2 separate regions of the Homo sapiens genome follow, and region 1 is linked to region 2. The links come from fine-mapping of genetic effects on plasma protein levels. A gene starts in region 2. The other region holds a variant in brackets. All regions are shown on one strand. Distances are between the middles of the regions.

Region 1 (8,653 bases), 160 kb before region 2:
CATCTACTGCAGTGACACAGCCCTCTACTGCCCGGAGGAGCGGCGGCGAGACCGGCGGCCTAGCGTGGACGCGCCCGTGACCGACGTGGGCTTCCTGCGGGCCCAGAACTCCACTGACAGCGCGGCCGAGGAGGAGGAGGAGGCCGAGGCGGCGGCCTTCCCGGCGGGCTTCCAGCATGAGGCCTTCCCCAGCTACGCAGGCTCACTGCCCACGTCCAGCTCCTACTCCAGCTTCAGCGCCACGTCGGAGGAGAAGGAGCACGCGCAGGCCAGCACGCTGACCGCGTCGCAGCAGGCCATCTACCTGAACAGCCGCGACGAGCTCTTCGACCGCAAGCCACCCGCCACCACCTACGAGGGCAGCCCTCGCTTTGCCAAGGCCACGGCCGCGGTGGCGGCCCCGCTGGAGGCCGAAGTGGCCCCAGGCTTCGGGCGGACCATGTCACCGTACCCGGCCGAGACCTTCCGCTTCCCGGCCTCTCCGGGTCCCCAGCAGGCCCTGATGCCCCCAAACCTGTGGAGCCTGCGGGCCAAGCCGGGGACCGCCCGGCTCCCCGGGGAGGACATGAGGGGCCAGTGGCGTCCCCTGAGCGTGGAGGACATCGGCGCCTACTCCTACCCCGTGAGCGCTGCCGGCCGCGCCTCACCCTGCAGCTTCTCTGAACGCTACTACGGCGGGGCCGGGGGCAGCCCGGGCAAGAAGGCCGACGGCCGCGCCAGCCCGCTCTACGCCAGCTACAAGGCCGACAGCTTCTCCGAGGGGGACGACCTCTCCCAGGGCCACCTGGCAGAGCCCTGCTTCCTGCGGGCGGGCGGCGACCTGAGCCTCAGTCCCGGCCGCTCGGCTGACCCACTGCCCGGCTATGCACCCAGCGAGGGGGGGGACGGGGACAGGCTCGGGGTGCAGCTGTGTGGGACCGCCAGCAGCCCTGAGCCCGAGCAGGGTTCCAGGGACTCCTTGGAGCCGAGCTCCATGGAGGCCTCCCCGGAAATGCATCCTGCCGCCCGCCTCAGCCCCCAGCAGGCCTTTCCGCGGACTGGTGGCTCGGGGCTGAGCCGCAAGGACAGCCTCACCAAGGCCCAGCTCTACGGAACCTTGCTCAACTGAGCGCCTGCGTGCAGGCCTGGCCGTGGTTCGCTCCCCGCCAGCCCACGTGCCCCAGAAGGGCCGGCCTCACCTCTCCCCAGCCCCCGCTGTTCCCCTGCCCCGGCCAACAACGAGGAGTCTGTTCCTCCCCGCACCTCCTCTCCTCCCCAGCCCTGTAGGCCTGAGGGGAGGGTCCCCCACACCACGGTGTCCACCCGGCCCCGGCCCGTGGAACTCCACTTAGAGCGTTTTTCACGCGTCCTTCCCCCATGTGAGAGGAGCATCCCCCCTTTTATAAAGCGAAACTATTTTTATAGAGAAAAAGGGTCTTTCTTAACGCACTTGGCCTCCAGCTCCCTGGACGGCTGCCTTGGCGTTTTCAACACAAAGCTCCTTTATTTTTTGGGCGAGGGTGCGTGGGGCCTGCCCCTTGGAAGGGAAGGGAAGGACGGTGTCCTGTGGAGACCAGACTCTGCAAGTGGGGAGACCACCCCCGCAAGCCAGTGACAAGGGAGCCCTGAAGTTGTGTCCACGAAGAGGGAGCTGAAACAAATTCGGGGCTATGAAGTGTTTTAAAAATCCATTCTTCGCAGTGTGGCCACCACACCGCCCTGAGCCCTCCCACGGCCCATCGTCCCGGGTGGGCCGGGATGATGCCCCAGTGCGGCCGGTGCTCATCTCCGCCCCCGGGTCCGCCCCCTGACACCGTCTTACTCTACCTCAGACATGAGGAGGCCCTCCATTCCTGGTTTCTGTAGCTTGCATTCTTGTTGTCTCTGATGCATGCCCTGCCAGTTAGTACTGTATTTTGCATTCATTAATAAAAGACACCGGTGGAAAGAATCTGGGTTGGGCTGTTTCTCCTCCTCCTGCCTTTTGGTCTCGGGAACCTGGGGTCCCTGGTGTCCCTCCCCAGCCTTGCTCTCTGCAGCCGAGTTGGGCCCCTTAACCCCACTTCACACCCCATCCCCATAACACCCCGTCCCCACCCCGCCATCCAAGTTCCTATCTAGGGTGTGGATTCTCCTGCTTCTCCCAACCCACTGGAGACAACAGCTCTTTCATCCCATTCTCCTGCGCGCTGCCCCACCGATTTCCTGGCCCCTAATCCTCGTGTCTCAGACTTGGCTTCTGCTCCTTGAGATGTACTGGGGCCACGGATGGAATGTCGGCAGGTGGCCTTTTCCCGGGCACACGGGATGCTGCCGCTCTGCTCTGTCTTCCTGTTGGTATTGGGAACTGGCTGTCAGTCCCGGAGCCGCTCCATTGGTTAGAAAAAAAAAATTGCTTTCTTTTCCCCGGCTCTTTAAGATTTTCTCTTTGACTTTGGCTTTCTGCAGTTTCCCTGAGGTGTGTCTGGGTGTGGAGTTCCTTCTTAGGAATCCTTCTGAGGATCCTCAGGGAGTCACATCTGTGGATTGGTGGACTTCATCAGTTCTGAAAAATTCTCAACTATTATTTTTTTAAAAACATTTCTCTGCCCATTCTCTCTGTTTTCTCCCTCCGGGTTTGTTTCCCAGACCTGTGCTACCTCAGGCCTGCAGTGGCCCTGTCACCCCCCACCATGCCCTGTGCCACTCCAGGCCTGCAACGGTCCCTGTCACCCCTCCCCACACCCTGTGCCATCCCAGGCCTGCAGCGGGCCCTGCCGCCCCTCCCCACACCCTCCGTGGTTGCTGCGCTCTCCCTGCTACACTGCACATCATCTGTCTTCCAACTCACTAATTCCCTCCTATGTCTATTCAGCCGCCACACACAGCCGCTGAGGTTTTCATTTCAGTTATTCATGTTTTTCATTTCTGGAGGTTCTACTTGGTTGTTTTACAAATCCACAGTGCCACTTTCTTAGCTTCCCATTCCCTGGAGATATTTTCCAGCTCATCTCTTATTTCTATCAAAACAGTGGGCACAACCATTTCACAAGCTGGTCTGGGACCGGACCATGTGGTCTGTGCAGGCCTCCTCGTGGTTCCCGCTCCGGCGGCCCTGTTTCTCTGGACGCCTGCTCATCTTGGACACATGCTCATCCCTGCCCTTGAAGAGGTGCATGTGTGGGTTCAAGGCTGAGGATGGAGGCCCCTCCCTAAGAGGGCCTTTATAGCTGTCCCTGTAGGTGCCTGGGGCATGTCCCAGTGGGGAGCACCTCACCCAGGTTCGTGTCTGGAGGTTCCCTGGCACGCCTGGCTTTGTGTGTAGCTCTAGCGTGGCTCTGCCTATGGTCAGACCACTCCAAGGAGAGTGGGCATCAGCCGTGGCTCCCTGCATCCCTGCCCTCCCCCTTCCTCTGCAGAAGAAGCCAGAGCCAGCCAGGCTGTGTCTTCTCCAGCCATAGCTGCCGTCCCAGGAAGCAGCCTCCCTGAGCCGGGGGAAGCTTGGAGAGGTTTGGGATTCTGTTCTCCTCTCTGGGGCCTGTGGGCAGAACAGGGGCTACAGCCCTCACTGAGCTGGGGGCAGCCAAGAGGGTGGGAGAGAGAAATAACTGGCACCCGGTGGGCAGAGGCATTCCCAGAGGGGAACCCAAGCTTCAGCTACCCCAGTGTCAACTGTGAGATTTCTGTCACCCAGACGTGGGAAAGCTGAGGCCAAAAAGAGGGGCGCCCTGGCTCTGCCACTTCTAGGTGACAAAGGCCCCACCCAGGTCTCACTCCTGGGGGCTACTGAATCAGACATACCTGCCCTGGGCGGCAGCCTTGGCCCAGATCTGGGGGGGCCAGACCCAGGGTGTTGGCCCCAAATTGCCACCTCAGAGCCTGCGGCCCCCAAGATGGCCTCCACACCTCACAGGGCTCTCCTGCCTGGGCTGCAATGCCTGCCACAGCCGGGCCTCCAAGGTGTCTTGTTCCCGGAGCAGCCAGGACCATTAGGTCCCTGCCTAGGACTGGGTAGGGACGGTGACTTTGGCTGCAGAGCCAGGCAGCCTTCAGGCGCAGGAGAGAAGAGGAAGGAGAGGGTCCACATGGCTTGCAGCGGCAGGGTCAGGCTGACACCCCCGGGGTGGGGGCCTGCCTGCTGTGCACGGCAGTCAGGACACTGCTCCTTGTGGTGCTGAGGCTGGGGAACCTTGGTTCACTATCCCCAATTCTCATGGCTCAAAGCTGGCTCAGCAGGGCCCTGAGACTTAGGAGCACCTGTGGCTCTGACCAGTGACTCTTCTCTCGCGGGATCCCTTGGGCTGGGTCTCGGTGCCCCCCTCCTTTCCCTGGTGCTGTTGTCAGCTGGCAGCCTCATGCTGGCCTCGGGGACCTGGCCCTGCCCACAAGGAACTCAGAGGTGGGGGAGGAAGGCAGACAGTGTAACACTCAGCTCAGGGCTTCCAGAACACAGGGCCTGTGGGCCTCTCAGAGGGGAGGGCCCTCACTGCTCCAGGAGGACGAATGAAAGGGGTCAGAGGAGAGGATCACAATGGGTGTTGAAGGATGAATAGGAGTTCAACAGGTATTTTAGGCAAATGGAACACAGCCATGAAAAGGCACAGATCTGTGACAGCTGGAGAGTTCTAGAAACTGTTCAGTGCTCCTGTGGGGCTCCCAAGGGGCTGAGCTCTGGAGCTGGCAGTTTCCCTCTGGATCTGCCCTTCGACCTTCTGCACTTGGACTGTCCCCACAGCTGAACGGGAAGTCCTGGACAGTCCCCATCTACCCAGGCAGCCGGCCTTGGCACAGGGTTCCCTGCTCCACCCCTGCCCTCTCCCTGCACTGAGATCCTGCCTTGCCGTCAGGGAGGCCCTGTCTGCACATCCGCCACCCGCCCACACATCCATGTATGTTTCTCCTCAGCTCTCGGCAGGGCAGCGCAGGGTTGGGCTCTGCCACCAGTTGACAGTGTCACCTTGGGCAAGACCCAGGCCCCCTGGCCAGCTTCCCTTGCTGGAGCCTGAGGACATTCATCAATGCAATTTCCAGGGACCCTCTAGGCAGCTGGGTCTCCCACTGTACAGACAGCCAAAGTGAGGTGGAGGTGGCGCCTACGGGAGGCCATTTGGGAAGGGATCCCAGGTGCAAAAAGAGCTCAGGCTTGGGGTCAGAGGGCCTTGGGCATGGCTCCCTGCCCTCAGGGCAGCAGTTTCCTCTGCTGGACAGTGGGGATCATGGACACCCTGTCAGAAGCTGCGAGCATCAGCTGCACTCAGAAAAAAGCCACGGCCACGCCCGGCACACAGCACTGCAGCCAGCACACACAGCCTGCACAGCATCTGGAGGTGAAGCCGTTTTTCTCCACGATGGCTTCGGATCTGGCATCCCAGATTTTCTAGGAGAGGATGAAGGTGAACACTCAGCCCCAGGAAGGTGGGTGGAGGGAAGAGACCATACTCCTTTTTCATTCCTGCTCCACATTTTCTAAATTTAGCTTTCTTATTTTAAAACTGCAAACGGTGAACTCCCTGACACCTTGCCAAGGATCAAAGTCAGTCTTTAAGAATGTTCTTTGGAAGAAAGTGTTTGGAAAAAGAAATAGATAAAAGCATGGTGCACACCTGCCATTCTTCCCAATAAAATGACCTAAAAAGGGAAGGGGCTGCCAGCCAGCTGGCTCCCACAGGCGCCTGTGTTGAGAAATCAAACCCACAGAGGGTGGAGCTAAGTAACCGCCACAGTGGGTTTTCTGTGGAGCCCTGGGTGGCCCCCCCGCCCCAGAAGGGTCAGAGCTTTGGGTTGGTTCAAGGCCACCAACTTGAAAATAAATGGACTTCAGGCGCACAGAAGTGGATGGCGTTTGTCCCAAGTGAAGTTGGGTGACAATCTGCAAAGTCCTTTCCTTTGCCTCGTCTCTCCTTATCCCCACAGGCCCACTTTACAGATGAGAAAACAAAGCTCAGAGAAGCAAGGCCCCTGCAAAGGCCTCAGACCAGCAGGAAATGGCCCTGGGACATGAGCTGGTCTCCTGGCTCCGAGTCCCACAGGTGGCAGGCAGTGATGTGTGCCCAGCACAGGAGTGGGGCCAGGAGCCCAGGCAGACAGGAAGCCTTTCAACAGCTATATCCCAGCCCTCAGAAGCCTGACACAGTGTCATCTGTGACTGATGGTCATGTTAAATCAGTGGTAACACGAACATATCACACGGTAGGGAACAATCAGCAAACGCTGCAATGAAATTCTCCATCACAAAATCACCATCAGGAAGGTGGAAAACCACTGGGGTTTGTACTGGGTCAGGAAGCAGAGCATCTGGACTCCAAGGTCTGGGGCTGGCAGTGAGGTGTGGGGATGGGAAAGGCAAATAAGAAACGGCCTGAGAAGCCCGGGCCTCCCTCCACCCCGACCACTGCAGCTTTCCCTCCCCCATGTGTCTGGGTTCATTCGCACAGCATCCATTCATTCCACAAACATGTGCTGAGGCCTGCTCAGGCCTGGAGCTGGGGAGACACACCCTCGTGAAAATACTTGTAGGAGGGTCCTGCACTTGGGGAGGAGATTACTTTCCCTGCTACAAATCACAGTTCCCACCACACCTGCCCAAGGAGCCTGGGTGTGGAGCATG[T/C]GTGTGACAGAAGTCAGTCAATCTGAGTTCTGGACTTGTCCAGTGGGAATGAATGAGGGCGGCAGCCCCAGCTGGTGGCTTCTGCCGTGAGATTGAACCTGGAAAAGGCCAATGCCCAGAGAGTGACAGGGACAGCAAGGGTAGGAGCAAGGCCCACCATCCCATGGCCCACTGAGGCGAGGTCTGAGAAGGGAGCCACATTCGCACTCTGCTCTAAACTGGCTCAGCTCCTGCATCAAGTGGTCAGCCTGACACTAAGTCCCAGCACCACTTCCTGAGTGCCTATGACACACGGGCCCTACCGGGAGACACACACACCCAGCCTCATGATCCCCACGAGATGGGCATTATGTGTTCTTGTTTCACAGAAGGAGAAACTGAGGAACTGGGAGCTAGGCAGCTTGCCCAAAGTCACACAGCAATGAAGGACACAGACAGGCCCACATCTGGTCACCAGGCCACGCCTGCAGTCACTTGTGGAAGGCCCACTCTGTGCCGGGGCCAGGCACCAGCAGGGAGCAGGAACCCCAGCCTGGGGCATGTGCTCCACCACAAATGCAGGTGTGGGGCATCGGTGGGGCCGGGGGATCTGTGGGGAAAGGGGGCTGAGGGTGACAGGAGCTTCCACGAAGATACTATCCAAGCAAGCCCTGAGGGAAGGAGGCTGCAGGAGGGGGATGGTGGGCGCAAAGGCCCTGAGGCACCATCAGCCTGCTGGGTGGGGGTGATGGGGTGGGCCCCAGAGGTCATAGGAGCTCCCCTGTCAGAACAGGAGGAGAAAGGGCAAAGGCCAGAGGCGTGACGAGAGGGAGGCCCCAGCAGCCACATGGGGCAGAGGGTGGGGGCTGCCCATCTCCCGCACCAGCCTCAGTACCACCACCCCCAACCGCCTTGCTCAGGCCAGTGGCAATCTTCACTTTCGACAGTGACCAAGCTCGCCGAGCACGGGGTGCAACTCTTTTCACCAAAACAGCCATTCTTGAGCCTAAAAGAAATACATAGAAGGTGCTCCCACTGTGGGTCATGAGGACCCTGCCCCCACATGGGCCAGGGGATCCCACTCACCCTGTCCTCAGGACACAGTAGGGGGACACTGGGGCCGTGCACTCAGCACCCTCAGTGCTCAACTCCAGCTTCCCCACCCACAGACAGGCACACAGTAGGTGCTGTAGACCAGATGCCTGCCATGTGTCAGGCTCTGCAGTGACTGTGGGGCAGGAAGACTCAGCCCTCAGAAGCCCCACCTTGGGGCCTTTGCACAGCTCCTCCCTCTGTCTGGGATACCCCTCCCACGGAGCCCAGGGATCCCAGTGACCCCCTGGACACACTGATACACAGGTCTTCACCCACCAGCCCCAGGCCAGCTCCAGCCCCCTCCAGGACACCCCCACAGACTTGACCTTCTCTGACCCTAGCTGTGAGCCTACAGGCTGGCTCTTCCAATGCCTGGCTTTATAGATGCAGAGATGAACCTGGGAGAGGAGTGGTGCCTTGCCTCGCCTCAGCTACAGTGACAGTGGAGCAGGGACAGAATAGTGGGGAGGGGGAGCCAAGTGCCCACCTCCTCCTGCGTCCCCCACTGCTTTGGCCCATGGGCAGCCTCCTCACATTCTCTGCCCTTCTCCACTGACTCCCCTGCCAGGGACACTGTCTTCACCAAGTTGAGGTCTGCCTCCTCCAGGAAGCCTTCCAAGGTACCAGTGGGCCCCACCCTCGCCTGTCAGCAGATCCCTGGGCTCCTGGAGTAGCCCCTCAGTTACAATTCTGGTGGGGGTTCCATCTAATCAGCCTGTACAGGCACCTGAGGAGCCAGGCCTCCTCCCAGCCCAGCTCCTCCAGGCTCCTCAAGGGTCCCTCACTTCTCCACGCGGCTCCCTCACCAGGCGGGCACACCTGCATGGGCAGCATGCACACTGGCGGGGCAAGGGCTGCCCAAGGGGCCCAAGGCTTGGGCCAACCAGGGGCCCAGCTGGCCACAGTCCTGGGGAGTGCAAGCGGCTGGGGCCTGTGAGGCTGGTGGGGCGCTGAGCTCCAACAGAATCCCTGAGGGCAGACCAAAGACCCAGACCACCCCCACTTCAGGACTCC
Region 2 (4,499 bases):
GCGCCCGCCACTACGCCCGGCTAATTTTTTGTATTTTTAGTAGAGACGGGGTTTCACCGTTTTAGCCGGGATGGTCTCGATCTCCTGACCTCGTGATCCGCCCGCCTCGGCCTCCCAAAGTGCTGGGATTACAGGCGTGAGCCACCGCGCCCGGCCTGCCTGGAACATTCTTCCCCCAGGTATCCCATCTCTGTAGCAGCCAGCTGGACAGACAGGCCCACAGCACAAGGCTAAGGTCCTGAGGTGTCCGTCTACCCAAGTGTGCAGGGAGCAATTCTGAGGGCATGATCCAAATCCACCCATTTCACTCCCAACACACAGATTCACACTGCAATGAATTTCTACTTGTTAAAAAAAATCTTTCTGGGCAGGGCATAGTGGCTCATGCCTGTAATCCCAGCACTTTGGGAGGCCGAGGTGGGCGGATCACCTGAGGTCGAGTTCGAGACCAGCCTGGCCAACATGGTGAAACCCTGTCTCTACTAAAATACAAAAATTAGCCGGGCGTGGTGGCACACGCCTGTAATCCCAGCTACTCGGGAGGCTGAGGCAGGAGAATCATTTAAACCCAGGAGGCAGAGGTTGCAGTGAGCCAAGATCGCGCCATTGCACCCCAGCCTGGGCGACAAGAGTGAAACTTCGTCTCAAAAAAAAAAAAAATCTTTCTGAAATTCTGAACCATCATACACAATACATGGTTATCAATTAGTTCCCAGAAAGAAGTGCTTTGGTAATTTTTTACTTCTGTGCTGTTAGCACCAAGCACAATCCAGAGAAAAAGAAGGGTGCTAGGCACTCCTAGGACAGCAGAGGGCGCGGTGGAACAGCACAGAACGCTCAGGCAATAGACCGACTTCCAAGAAAACCCAGTGCACCCAACCTTAATCAAACACGCCAAGCTCCGCCTCCATCCCCCAACAGGTGGAGTCAGGTCAGCATCAACAGATTCCCTCCAAGTCCTTTTCTAAGTCATTCCAGACAGCCTATTACCCATCTCTTCTTCTAGACAATGGGTTTCTATGTCCCCTGGAATCAACCACCCAACCTCTTCCACACCTTTCCCCCAAGTGGCATCATTCGCCTGAGGGTTCCACTGGTCTACAAGTCAGGTCATCATTCCATAAATGTCTGTAGTCAGCCTCCTCTAGTAATGCCGCCCCCGTTCGCAGCCCATTCCAGGCAGGTAACAACTTCCACACGCAAAGCCAGAGTTTAAATAAAACGACCGGGCGCGGTGGCTCACGCCTGTAATCCTAGCACTGTAGGAGGCCGAGAAGGGCGGATTACCTGAGGTCGGGGGTTCAAGACCAGCCTGGCCAACATGGTGAAACCCCGTCTCTACTAAAAATACAAAAAAAAAAAAAATTTAGCCGTGTGCAGTGGTGCGCGCCTGTAATCCCAGCTACTCTGGAGGCTGAGGCCGCAGAATTGCTTGAACCCGGGAGGCGGAGGTTGCGGTGAGTGGAGATCACGCCACTGCACTCCAGCCTGGGCTACAGAGCGAGACTTGGTCTCAAAAAACAACAACAACAACAACAACTTCTAAAGCCAGCCAGCCAGCTCATCTCCAATGGAACTAATATAATATGAAAGACTAATTATAAACTAATGGAACCGTGCACTGCAAATAATTTGGCATTTCTGTTCTCTAAATGCTAAGCCTGGTCCCGAGGCCACTCTCAACTCCTCTGCCCAGGCACCACCCACCATGCACCCAGATTCCCACCACCAGGGTGCCCGTGCTCCCTCTGGAAGGAGATGAGGGATTAAACGAAGAGGAACAGACAGTAAGATGGAAGGGAAGGCAGGGACACTGGAGAAGAGTCTAAGGAAGGAGCGAGTGACTCTGACAGTCACTATCAGCAAGTCAGCCCCATGAGGACAGGACTTTCTGTGTTTTGTTCACTATTCAATGCCCAGCGTCTAAAAATATTTCTGGAATGCAAACGGGTGGGAGGGGGAGATGCTAGGAAGTAAAAGAAATAGGATATTCCCATTCAACAAACATTTCCTGATTACGTACTCTTTGTCAAGCCCTATGCTGGGTCTGGTGTGGGTGGAAATCAAACACAAAACACAGATCCCCCCGGAGGCCCCAGAGCGATGAAAGCAACAAACAAGATACGACCAGAGATGGGTTTTGAAGGATGAATAGGAGTTAGCTGAGCTGTCAATAGTAAGAAGTAAGGTTGGTCCAAGGCACAGCGCTTTCTGAAGGAACAGGAAGTGAAAGGAAGGCGAGCGGCTATGAGAGACCGCGTTAAGCGGCACGGGGCGCTTTAGGCGCTGCCCAGTCCCGGCCCCTCCAGCCCGGGGCCCGCCGCTCACCACACGCACCGGAAGCGCTCGGTTCTCCCGGAGGCAGACCGGCCAGCACACTACCATCCAGTCACGTTCCGACGCGACGCCGCGGCCGCCAGCCAATCAGTGGCGGCCTCTGCCCCGCCCCCGCGCGAACAGCCAATGACGGCGCCGTCGGGCCGGAAGTTGTTCCGTCCGGACGGCGTTTCCACGGACGCCCAGGAGACAGCCGGTTGCTGAGCCGGGAGCGCTGACTGGCCCGGCTGGGCAGGGTAAGCGAGGGGAGTAAGGCCGGGGCGGAGTGAGGAAACAAGGGAGGGAGTGATGGAGGGACGCTGGCGCGGCGCCCAGTGGCCTGGCCCTCCCGGGAGTATCCTTAGAGCCCGGCTTGCTGCCCGCCGCGTTCTGGCACTGTGAGGCGCGGAGCCTGCCACCGACCCCTCGCCCCTTTCCTCTGAGCGCCGCCGACCCACCCCGTCTCCCTTTCCCACTGGCACCCTTCATCGTCTCCGCCTGTTCGCTTTTCCCGAGGAGAGAGGCCCCCATTTTTATTTAGCGCCTGCCATGTGCCAGAGGCTTTGCGTAGTGTTGCACTTAGTCCCCTCAACGGTAATGTTAGCAGGCTTCTCCATGCCCATTCCACAGATGAGGAAACCGAAGGGGAAGCAGAAAAGTAATGCGACCCTTGCCCAAGGTTTCGAATAAGTCCAAGCTGGGATTGAAACCCAGGCGTCTGTGACCCCAGAACTCCTGATCTTTCCACTGCACTGTGCCGCCTCGGTGAACAGATGCGGGGAATTTACAGTTTCTCTTTCCACCGCCCACGACTACACAAAATCAGTCACACTGACGCTGAGGGTGGGGAACGGGAAGAGGGTGGGGAGGTTATTTGGAGGCCAGCGGGGGGTGAGGGGTGGCTGATGCAATGACCAGCTAATGGCTCGATTCTCAAGAGGGTTTCATTGGTCTCAACCTGGCCCCCCAGGCAACCCACCCCTGATTGGACAGTCTCATCAAGAAGGTTGGTCAAGAGCTCAAGTGTTTCTGAGAATCTGGGTGATTTATAAGAAACCCTTAGCTGAATGCAGGGTGGGGAGAACGAAAGACAAAAGCATCTTTTTTCAGAAGGGAAACTGAAAGAAAGAGGGGAAGAGTATTAAAGACCATTTCTGGCTGGGCAGGGCACTCTCAGCAGCTCAACTGCCCAGCGTGACCAGTGGCCACCTCTGCAGTGTCTTCCACAACCTGGGTATGTATTGCCATCTTTGCCAGGCTTAGAGCTTGTTCGTGTTTTTAGCAAAGTGCTGAAAACCTTGGTTTAGGGGGTCAGGACTTGTGTCTTAGGATTAGGGTGTTATGCATTTTACTTCTTCCATTGACCCAAAGTTCAGGTGATTCACTGCTCCCATAGGGAACAGAGATCCTGGCTGAGCAGTCGCGGGCTTGGATCCGTAGCTTGCCTCTCAGCACCGTCATGCTGTCTGTCATAATTTTCACTGATGCACCCTCCTTCTGTGCTCAACATCAGAACGTATTGTCATTCTTATTGTGACACCCAAAAGTGTCTCGTGCCTGGCTTCATAGAAATTAATGTCTTTGCCTTTTAAGATAATGTTCATGCTGTTATTTGGCGGGGAAAGCAATCTTTCTTTTAGTGTTTAAAAAAAATGGAACATGATGGGTCCCAAAAGGTGTCAAGAAATCCTTGCTCTAAAGAAGTCATTTTCTTGTCCTCTGGGAACTTGCCAGTCCAAAGGTATTGTCACCTACACTCTGGGGCCAAGATAGAAAGGATGGTATTCTACCTCCTGGTGGTATTCCAGGGATCCAGAAACACTCCTGGGCCACATTCTCTTCTCACCTGCTCCAGAATTGGCTGTCTTGATGCCACCCTTCCCCAGATTGCAGAATCAGCGTGCCCTGATCTCTGTGAGATGATTTTGATGCAACCCAAGTCTTTATCATGTTGTTCTGTTAAACAATTCTATAGTCCTTTCCACTCCTCATCCCAATACAATACCCAGTTTCTTTAAGTGCCTATTATGCTCCTCCACCACAGTGGAAACTTTCAGAATGAGCACAAGATTCAAGTTCTTGAAAAGGGGGAACTGGGGGTTAATTTTCAAGAGGCTTTTTAGCTTTCTCCTTGAAGGTCTGCTGTGATCTGCTGTGGAGTAGGCAGTTTTGCTCTTTACACG

Alleles and levels. Positions count from the first base shown, and alleles are read on the strand shown. Strength reflects both the effect of a copy and how common the allele is.
For the plasma level of the protein whose gene starts at base 3,486 in region 2, allele C in region 1 goes with a lower level than allele T (weak association).

The links. PIP is the chance, under the fine-mapping model, that this variant and not a neighbour inherited with it causes the effect. Protein levels are from antibody-based Olink assays in UK Biobank. Linkage for the fine-mapping came from a reference panel and not from the study's own genotypes, which makes the PIPs less certain.
Region 1: its variant is fine-mapped to the plasma level of the WARS1 protein (UK Biobank, PIP 0.93).

What each region holds. Positions count from the first base shown.
Region 1 is chr14:100,530,424-100,539,076 of GRCh38, reverse strand. BEGAIN (brain enriched guanylate kinase associated) reads left to right here. Exons shown (of 7, transcript NM_001385089.1): 7 at 1-1,930. The coding sequence ends at 1,108. LOC124903382 (a long non-coding RNA gene) reads right to left here and starts at 1,105. Exons shown (of 2, transcript XR_007064334.1): 1 at 1-1,105. The variant T/C (reference allele first, on the strand shown) is at 6,566.
Region 2 is chr14:100,374,334-100,378,832 of GRCh38, reverse strand. It overlaps WARS1 (tryptophanyl-tRNA synthetase 1), which reads left to right and starts at 3,486. Exons shown (of 11, transcript NM_004184.4): 1 at 3,486-3,550. WDR25 (WD repeat domain 25) reads right to left here and starts at 2,348. Exons shown (of 7, transcript NM_001161476.3): 1 at 2,338-2,348. RefSeq lists silencers at 2,215-2,264, 2,455-2,514 and enhancers at 3,025-3,384, 3,395-3,534.